3 linked regions of the Homo sapiens genome follow. The protein of the gene in region 2 purifies or fractionates together with the protein of the main gene of each other region. This does not show direct contact. Each region holds a gene or a part of one and is shown on either strand. Other genes may lie near its edges.

The links.
Region 1: the proteins of C20orf141 (region 2) and FUNDC2 purify together in Homo sapiens (affinity purification with mass spectrometry; one large-scale study listed by BioGRID and IntAct). This does not show direct contact.
Region 3: the proteins of C20orf141 (region 2) and CCDC12 purify together in Homo sapiens (affinity purification with mass spectrometry; one large-scale study listed by BioGRID and IntAct). This does not show direct contact.

The regions. Positions count from the first base shown.
Region 1 is NC_000023.11:155,033,316-155,036,970, forward strand, and holds part of FUNDC2 (FUN14 domain-containing protein 2), read left to right. Parts: intron 1-87; coding exon 88-238; intron 239-3,655. UniProt on the Homo sapiens protein: Binds directly and specifically 1,2-Diacyl-sn-glycero-3-phospho-(1'-myo-inositol-3',4',5'-bisphosphate) (PIP3) leading to the recruitment of PIP3 to mitochondria and may play a role in the regulation of the platelet activation via AKT/GSK3B/cGMP signaling pathways.
Region 2 is NC_000020.11:2,813,592-2,816,336, reverse strand, and holds C20orf141 (uncharacterized protein C20orf141), read right to left. Parts: upstream 1,351-2,745; 5' UTR 1,320-1,350; exon of another isoform or gene 1,186-1,319; 5' UTR 1,153-1,185; coding exon 893-1,152; intron 800-892; coding exon 562-799; 3' UTR 507-561; downstream 1-506. Other genes in the region: TMEM239 (transmembrane protein 239), read right to left, coding at 1-2.
Region 3 is NC_000003.12:46,966,617-46,970,271, forward strand, and holds part of CCDC12 (coiled-coil domain-containing protein 12), read right to left. Parts: intron 1-3,655.

The sequences.
Region 1 (3,655 bases), on a different chromosome or scaffold from region 2:
TTACATTTATGTCTGTTTCTTTAAATATCTCAATCTAGTTAGGTATAAAAGTAAATATTTTCTTATTTAACGTATTACTTCTTGTAGGAAACTTTGAGGGAAATTTTGAGTCACTGGACCTTGCGGAATTTGCTAAGAAGCAGCCATGGTGGCGTAAGCTGTTCGGGCAGGAATCTGGACCTTCAGCAGAAAAGTATAGCGTGGCAACCCAGCTGTTCATTGGAGGTGTCACTGGATGGTAAGTGATGTGAAAGATGTCCACTGTCTTTTGTGCATGATTTAGTATTGCAGTTATAGGTACCATCATCTCCTTTAACCAGTGAAAACACATTGGCTTCTGTGAAATTGGTCACTTAATGTGGAGCATGTATCTAAACATCATCTTAAAGTACCATTTAATGGTTACACATAATGATTGTTTCCTATATGCCAGGTTCTGTTTGAAGTATTTACATAGATATCTCATTTCCTTCTCACAACTCTGGAATTAGTACTGTTATTTTCTATCCTCATTTTATAGAAACTGAGGCTCAGAAAGGTTAGTTTGCCCAAGGCCACATAGCTGGTAACTGGTAGAATAAGGAGCTAACTACTTATTAGCTATGTCAGATGATAACTTAATGTGACACAGCTTATGGTTTCATTTGTAATAAATTCAAAAAGTAATAGCAAATTTCATAGGTGAATATTGAATCCATTAATCTCATAGACTCTTTACATTTGAAAAATTTTATAGCACCATATAGCAAATATAGAACAGCACATTTAACAGGTGTACATTTTAGCAAATACTTGGAGTGAACACCTATGTAACAACTGCTAAGGTTAAAAAAAACGTGGCTAGCGCCCTAGAAACTCGAGAGGTTATTAAGCAGTTATTTCATTGCTTTTCTTTGTAGTTTTAACACCAGTTATGTCACTAAATAACATACTGTGGTTTACCTGCTTTCCACCTTAAAGTAAATGCAATCAGTATGTATTCTTTTGAGTCTTGCTTTTTTCGCTCAACCTGATGTTTCATATATTCAACTACATTGTGTATAGTTGTAGTTTCTTCACTTTCACTTGTATTTTGAGTTCCATTATGTGAATATACCACAGTATATCCAGTTGATGACTGATATTGGAGTTGTTTCCATTTTTGGCTAATACTATGCTTATATGAGTATTAGATTTCCCAGTGTATATGTGCATACATTTCTGTAGGGTCTGTACCTAGAAATTGCTAGGTAATGGGTATAGGTATCTTCAGCTTCACTAAATAATGTCAAACCACCTTCCAAAACTGTTTTTAACAGTTTACAGTCCCAGCAAGGACCAAATGAACCTGTTGTTCTACATGGTGGCACTTGATTTTGCCAGGCTATTAAATTTTTAAAAAATTAGTTAATTTTTCCTTAGCGAGGTAATCAAGTTAAATCCAGACTATAAAAATTTTACCAGTCTGGTAGTTAGGTAGTAGTATTTCATGGTGGCTTCATTTACATTTCCCTGAGTAGGAGTGACATTGATCGACTTTTACGTATGTTTGTTGACCATTTGGATCTCCTCTTTCAGTTCCACTCTAGTTTTTTTCCTCTGAAGTTGTCATTCTTTCCCTTGTTAAGCTGTAAGAGTTCTTTATATATTCTGAATATTCTCAGTCCTTTGTTAGTTGTGTGTATTATAGATATTTTCACTCATTCTGTGGTTATCTTTTCGTTTTATGGTATCTTTTGATGAACTGAAGATCTTATTTTTAATATAGTCAATTTTATCAATCTTAACCTTAATGGTTAGTGATTTTTGTGGCTTATTTAAGTAATCTTTGCCTACCCCATGTTTCAGAACTTTTATTATTTGACCTTTCACATTTAGATTTATTATCCACCTGGAATTGTTATTGTGCTCAGTATGTGGTAGATTCCTTCTTTTCTTCCCCATGTGGAATACCCATTTGTCCCAACTTAATTTATTGTGAAAGCTATCCCTTTCCCCGCTGCTTTATGTGAGTGTGTGTGCGCATGCATATGTGTGTGTCTGCTATCTTGTTCTTTAGGAACATCTTGGCTATTTTCTTTATCTCTTAGTTTTTAAATTTAATAAATAGGTATATTATAAGTTGCACATATTTAAAGTATAAAATTTGATACATTTTTACATATGTACATGCCCATAAAACCATCACCACAGTCAAGATAATGAACATACCTATCACTTCAAAAGCTGCTTTGTACCTCTTTGTAATTCCACGCTCTTTCCTTCATGCCATCCTCCCGCCACTGATCTGCTTTCTATTACTATAGATTATGTTTTCTAGATTCTTTTTAGAAGTGGAATTACATAGTATATATTCTTTTTTGTCTGGCTTCTCTTATTCACCATAATAATATATTTTTTTGTTTTGAGACGGAGTCTTGCTCTGTTGCCCAGACTGGAGTGCAGTGGCACGATCTTGGCTCACCGCCTCCTGGGTTCAAGCAGTTCTCCTGCATCAGCCTTCACCATAATAATTTTGAGATAATCTGTGCTTTTCTGTTTATCAACAGTTCATTCCTTTTTATTGCTAAGTAGTACTCCATTGTATGGATGTACCACAATCTGTTTCTCCATCCACCTTTGATGGACATTTGAGTTTTTTTTTCACTTTTTAGCTGTTACAGATAAAACTTCAAGTTTGTATACAAGTGTACAAGTCTTTGTATGAACATATGCTTTCATTTCTTTTGGGTAAATATCTAGGAATAGTATGGCTGAGTCACGTAGTAAGTGAATGTTCTAAATTTACAAGTACCTGCCAGTTTTTAAAGTGCCTGTACCATCTTACATCTCCACCAGCAATGTGTGAGGGTTCCAGTTCCTCTGCATCCTTACTAACACTTGGTATTATCTTTTTGATTACGAACATCTTAGTGGGTATGAAGTTGTATCTCATTGTGGTTTGAATTTGCGTTTCTCTAATGACTAATGATGTTGAGCATTTTCACGGGCTTATTTTTTGCCATTCATATATCTTTGATGACTTATTTGTTCAAATCTTTTTCCACATATTTTTATTGGGTTGTTGGTTTTCTTTCACTGCTGAATCGTGAGAGTTCTTTAAATATTCTGGATAGAAGTCTTAGATATGTGATTTGCAAATATATTACTTCTCTGTAGCTTTTCATTATCTGAACTGTACCTTTCAAAGAGCAGAAGTTCTTAATCTTGAAGTGCAGCTCTTTTGTAGCTCCAGCTTTTGGTGTCATGTCTGAGAATATTTGCCTAATCCAGGGTCACCAAGATTTTCTCTCGCTTTTTCTAGATTGTATATAGGTTCGGATTTTATATTTAGTTCTGTGATCCATTTTGATTTACTTTTTGTATATAGTATAAGGTAGGAATCCAAGTTTTTTTTGCGTATGGGTATCTAGTTGTCCCCACATTTGTAAAAAAAAGACTGTCTTTTTCTCCACTGAATTGTCTTTACACCTATGTTGAAAATCAGTTGACTATATGTTTTTGAGCTCTTTGTACTGCCAAATTGATCTAGGTGCCATTATCATGCTGTTTTGATTACTGTAACTTAGGTAATGCAAGTCTTGAAATTTTGTTTTTCATCAAAGCTATTTTGAGTATTCTAGGTATTTAGCATTTCCATCTGAATTTTATCTTGTTTTTATACACTCCTCCATAT
Region 2 (2,745 bases):
ATCTACCCCCACCCTCCCCAGAGGAGCCCCTTTGTGACCCGGGCTGGGGTGGGGTCCAGCCAAGAGAGGAGTCACTGTAGGGTGTGAGGCCCACCCAAGTCCCTCTGCACGGACCCTCCAGGCTGGCAGGGGAGCCTCGGAGCCCCGCAGATGTAGTTTCTCATGCTTTCTCATGGGAAGCCCTCCCTGGATCCCTGTCCCTTTCCTGCTTTCCCTGCTGGCTGATATCCACCCCTTTCCAAACTGCTCTCTCGCAAGTCTTTCTGTCTGGACCTTCATTCTCTAGAGCCACAGAGGAGGCCAGAGTGGCTGCCCCCAATCCACAGGCTCTGAGGTGGCTGCCACATTCTTCCTTGGGCTCCCTGGCTAGTATCCTACCTTCTCTTGCTGCCCAAAGACTCAGATCCAGGTATCTGATACCTATATTATAGGACTGTGAGGTTCAGGCTGGGAAGAAAGGGGTATCATCCCACCTGCCCAGCCAGGAAGGAGAAAAGGGGGCCTGATGAAGAAGGGTGGTCATTGTATATTTGAAGGACACTGAGTTGTGGGGAGGGGCTCTCAGGCCCAAGGATGGAGGCAGAAAGCCAGGCCAAGCAGGGTCAAGGGCATGCCACAGGCTCTCAGGAGCGGGCCCAGCCCCATGAGCAGCAGCAGCAGTGCGTCCTGGAGGCTAAGTTGTCCTGAGACTGTACCCATTTGCAGGAGTAGAGCCTCCTGCTGTCCAGGACCTTCACCGGCCCCCTGACTCTGGCCCCTGGTGAGAAGTTTGCGCTGTGGCAGAGTGTGACCTGCGGGCCTGTGGAGAGAGAGGGTGGTGACTGGGCTTAGGGAAGTTGTCCACTGGCCCGCCCGCCTACAATGCCCACCTGCCAGGCTGCTGCCCACTTACCTATGGAGCAGGTCAAAGGTGAGGAAGCTGACCAGAAGCAGCAGCAGGGCTGGGCCAGTGGTGGAAAAGACTGCCTGGATTGTCAGTCCTAGTGCCCCCAGCCATAGGACACTGTCCAGGAGCTGGGCCCAGCTAGGGCCCCAGGTGGATACAGGTGGACGCACTGGACTACCTGACCCCTCCCCAGCACCCAGGCCCCTTGGAGGAACTGGGATCGGATCCTCACGTGCTTCGGGTCTGGGTAAGCAGAGCCGGGTCATGGAGAGAGGTGGAGGTGACGGGAAGACCTAGTGCTGAAAAGGATTATAAGGGTGAGAGTAGGGGAAGGGGTAGGGCCCGGGCAGACAGAAGGGTGAGCTCAGAGTGGGGAATTAGGCTCCTGCAGAGTCTCCCCCTCCCCCATACCCACCCAGCAAACCCTCCTCACCTCCTCCCACTTTGGTCAGCATTCTGGGAGTGGGCACCCGGGGCATTGTGACCTGTTACCACGTGGGGCCGTGGGGTAGGGAGGGGGCTGCTGCTGCTGCTGCTCTGACCTCATAAGCAGCTGGTGGCCTAGGTGGGGCTTAGCTGGGAAGTCAGGGATTTCTGAGAACTAAGACTCATCCTCTTGCCTTTGCTGATTCTCTGCCCTAGGGCCCTCCCTTGGGGATCTGAGTTGTCAGGAAGGCATTCTAACCCCATTACTACTTGGGCATCTGTCCAAGGGAGCGAGGTCTGCTTTCTTCTTCCTGTGAGTTTGCAGAGCTGCAGGTCCAGGGCGAAGTCATTCAATATCTCTGTCCCCAGCTGTCTTCCCTGTGGGTCCTTCTAGGGGATTTTTCAGGCCTGAAGTTCCAGATTGCAGAGATGGGCTCTGCCAGGGGACTGCCTGAGGCTTCTGGGGCTGGGCTTCCGCATAACCTGCTAAATGGGGGTGAGAGAGGAGGGGGCTGTTCAGGTATTCTAAGCACTACAGTTTATAGGGGGTGTTATGCATACTGGGGTTCCAGTAATGAGGTAGAGGACATGAACTTAAGAGGACTATGACCTAGTAACCCCCTTATTAGAGGTTAAGGTTACAGTCTGAGAATGGAGTTAAGGAAAATGAACATATAATGAAGGGCTTAGTCACTTGGATTATCAGTATATCAGATTACACTGATCATCTGTAAATGGGTGGTGGCCATAGGGGTCCAGCACATCTCAGTTTAGTGACTTGAGAGGCAAGAGCGGAAATGTGTCATAATTAAGAGAACTTAATCTTTGCCCACATATCATACTTTGAAGGAAAACTGGTAGGGGTGGCAAAATGGGAGACAGTGGCCATACAGCCCCTAGGAGAGGAGGAGACAGAACAAGAATCAGGCTGCATATCCACCTCCAGCAGGCCTTGCCCAGAGACGAGGGTCACCAGCCCTAATGACCATGCACTGATCGCCCTTGGTCTGGCTGTTCTTGCTTATCCAGCAGCTGGGTTTTACGAGTAGATTTGTCCGTAATGGGATAGGGTATAACAGAAGATCCCAGAATTTTTTTTTTTTTGGCATTAAGTTCCAATTGTGCTTGTAAAGGAACATTAAGGTTTAAGATTGGCAATTCCCTGAGCCTGATCAATCCTGGATGCATCCACACAATTGCATTCCTGGACATACAGACCTGGGGAGCATGTCCTGATGAGTCCACCAAGATGAGGCTACTCCATATTGCAGGGCATGGGGGGATCGGAGAGTCTAAAGCTCCTTAAAGATTTACTATGCACCAGGTGCTCTGTATGCATGTATAGGAGAGTTCTGTCTGTGATTTTCTCAGAGTTTATTTTGTATTCAACAATCATTTATTTAAGTGCTTCCTATGTGCCAGGCACTGCACCA
Region 3 (3,655 bases), on a different chromosome or scaffold from region 2:
TCCAAACACCAGGTGAGTTCAGACAGCAAGGCTATAAGGGCACTGCCTCAGACTGGCGCTACCCTCCTGAGAGGAGGGATGGATGTCCCGGCTGGGGTCCAGTGAGGACTTCAAGCAGTGGAAAGGAGGCTTAATTTACAGGAAGGCTTTGGCCAGCATGCTGCACCTCAACCCAGCTGGCCTGGATTCCACTGGCACCACACACTTCCCTGAAACAGCTGGACCAAGCTCACCTATCACCTTGTCTTGCCAAAACCCATCCCCAGTCTTCGCCTGGCTTCTCTCAGCCCCACTGTCCTCATGCCGCCCCACCCCACCAAGTTTCCTTGGATTCTTCTAACTCCTGCTAAATACCTGCAGAGCGAGCCTCAGGGCACAGAATGATCTCCCAGTCCTCTGTCTCTGTGGTCTAAGCTCTGTCACCAGAGGGCCTCGTCTAGCCCCAGGGCTTGATATCCTGTATCTGTTTCTAGTCCAGATGCCTGCTTATGTCTCTCTTCGCTTACCTGTCTAACAGTCATCTCTGGCTTAATGTGGCCAAAGCCAGACTCTTGCCTTCCCCTTCAAAGCCCCTCTCCCCTGTACTTTGCCATCTCAGGAACCCTGTCTGTGCGCACTGCCTCACACCTGGGCTCCTGCAGCTGCCTCCTACCTCCACACACAGTCATCCAAGGGCATGTCAGCTTTGCTCAGACCTCCAGTGGTTCCCCAACCCCCTTAGCCTGAGGTCCAGCCTTGGTGGTCTGCAAGGCCCCCTTCTAACTAGCCCAGCCTCCCAGGCCCTCTCCACCCTCATCCCCCTTCCATACCTCCCACTGTTCACTCTACTCCTACTCCTCAAACATGCCAAGCTAGTCTTGCTCAGCTTGGAATGCTCTTCCCTAGATCTTGGCATCTCACTCCTCCATCCCCGTCTCAGAACTCCCAGGTGGTGGTCTTCCCAGCCTGGGCAGCTGCACAGCCTCTCCCCAACACACACACCACATTCCCAAGTTCCTGGGACACATAAACAGGGACACCATGTTCCTTGTTTCTAAGTATTCCCACTCCTTCCATAGAAGCCCCTTGAGGCAAGGAGGAAGTCTTGTTCATAGCTGTATCCCCAGGGCCTGTCATACAGCTGGTACTCAATAAATACTTATTAGTGGCTAGCTGCAGAGTTCCTGCAGTGAGCATGGGCAGCTAAGGTTCCAAGGGAAAAAAAAGTATCCTTCTTCCAATGAGAGAATGCCAGGGACTGATCAGAGATGTCCAGAAAAATTCATCAGAATCACCTGGGGAACTTTAAGAATGCATGAATTTATAGGCTATATACCAAGACCACAATAGGTCTGAGGTAGGGCCAGAAAAAAGGACTGCAAATTGTCTCTCAAGACAACCCAACGAACAGGTAGGTCTGAGAAACTCAGATAAATCCAACACCATCATTTCATACGTGAACATATTGAGGGCCTCAGAAGGAAATGCTGGCTCACCATAGGTATGTGTTGGGAACCCCAAATCTCCCACCCAGAAGATTCTCCCTCTCACTGCCTCCACAACCTTGGAGTCTGAGAGCTTGGGCAGAAAAGCTGAGTCCTTAGGAAGAACGGGCACTCACACTCCACCTCGGCTGTGACTGCAAATCCATTTTCTTCTTAATCTAACACTTTGCACTAACACTCCATCTTCAAAAAATTAGGGCTAGGATGAGTAAAGCCAGGGTGCAGGAGAAGGACCTCTTTGCTTCCACTGGAACCGGGCCAGTTCCACCCACTGTCACCCAGCGGAGAAGGCTGCAGGACCACCTGGATGTCCCCACTTACAAGAGGGTAAAGAAGAAAGGACAGGCATCCACGTTTATAAAAGGCCTGTGTGCAAGATCTCGAGCTAGACACTTCATAGACAGCATCTTTCTCTGTTCTCCTAGCTACTGATGAGTTCAGAAGCTGTATCTCGATTTTATAGACAAGAGAGAGGCTCAGATTTTTCAAGGCTTGCTCTGAGTACCATAGATGCGATTAATGGAGCAGAGGTTTAAATCAGATCTGTCTCCAAAGTCCATTCTCTCCACTCCACCACTAGGCCTCCACCTGGCAGCCTGGTTACAGTTTATATGTGTGATGGGTGGAGGCTCCTTCCCGGGAGGTACTTATTCCCAAGCACCTGGGGGTGAGAGGTGTAGAGGGATAGAAGGCCAGAGCCTAAGGGACAATCTAGGGTCAGCAACAACTCAAAGCACGACTGTGGGATGTTCCTTCAGCCCAGGGTTTCCTGGTCTATCAGACAGGGATGAAGCAATACACCCTGCTTCAAAGTCCTGCTTCAGGGATGGAACACGATTCTGCCACAACTGCCACGCAAATGTTATGACTGCCAACCTGCCAAAAGCTGTCAATACAGGCGGCAGTGATCGCCTTGGCTGACTTTGCAACCAGGCTGCTGGGCCTGGGGATGTGGCCACATGGGATGTAGATAGAGGCAACTTCTTGAGACATGATCAGGACACGGACAAGTCTGACTCCTCACCCAGCATACTAGGCCTCTCACCCACTGCCTCTGTTCCTCCAGCAAGACTTGCTAGCCCCTCCCTCTGGTTCCCTCTTTTACCCTCCCCCAACCTGGCCAGGGACCCTCCCTAGTACTCCCAAGTCAGAGAGTACTAGTGCATGCCTTCTACCTTGGCATTGCTCCCACTCTCTGCACTGTGCATTTTTTTCTTTCTGTTTGTTTTTTAATCCTCCCACCTCAGCCTCCCGAATAGCTGGGACTGCAGGAGCGGGCCACCATGCCCGGCTAATTTTGTTTACTTATATTTGTAGAGATGGTGTCTTGTTATGTTGCCCATGCTGGTCTTGAACTCCTGAGCTCAAGCGATCTGCCCACTTTGGCCTCCCAAAGTACTGGGATTACAGGCGTGAGACACCACACCTGGCCCGCACTCCCATTTCTTGAGTGTGTAAATCACAACTATACCACTCTGAATCACCAGCACTTAACTCCACAGGGTACATACACAGATGGCCCCAAATCAGCATCTGATGGAGATACCAGCCATGAATATGGCCAACTTCCAAGCCCTCTGCCCAGCTTTGGGCTCCCAAGGCTGATGTGATGGTCATCTGGGTTTCCACTTGCCCCTTAGCGCTCAACAACTGGAGCTCAGGTAGAGACACAGTTTCTTGTAAGTCAGGCTGAAGGGAGCAAGTCCTCCAGAGATGCACCGTCGAATAAGGCAATCACGAGTCAAGTGTGGCTGTTTAAATGTAAACTAACTAAAATTAAATGTCGCAGTAGCCATATTTCTTTTTTTTTTTTTTTTTTTGAGACAGGGTCTCACACTGTTGCCCGGGCTGGGGTGCAGTGACGTGATCTCAGCTCATTGCAACCTCTGCCCCTACCAGGCTGAAGCAATTCTCCCTGCTCAGTCTCCCAAGTAGCTGGAACTATAAGTGCACGACACCATTCCAGGTTAATTTTTTGTATTTTTTGTGGAGATGGGGATTTGTCATATTGCCCAGGCTGGTCTCAAACTCCTGGACTCAAGTGATCTTCCTGCCTCCACCTCCCAAAATGCTGGGATTATAACAAGCTTGTCCAACCCGCAGACCAAGGCCCAGGACCACTTCAAATGCAGCCCAACACAAATTCGTAAACTTTCCTAAAACATTATGAG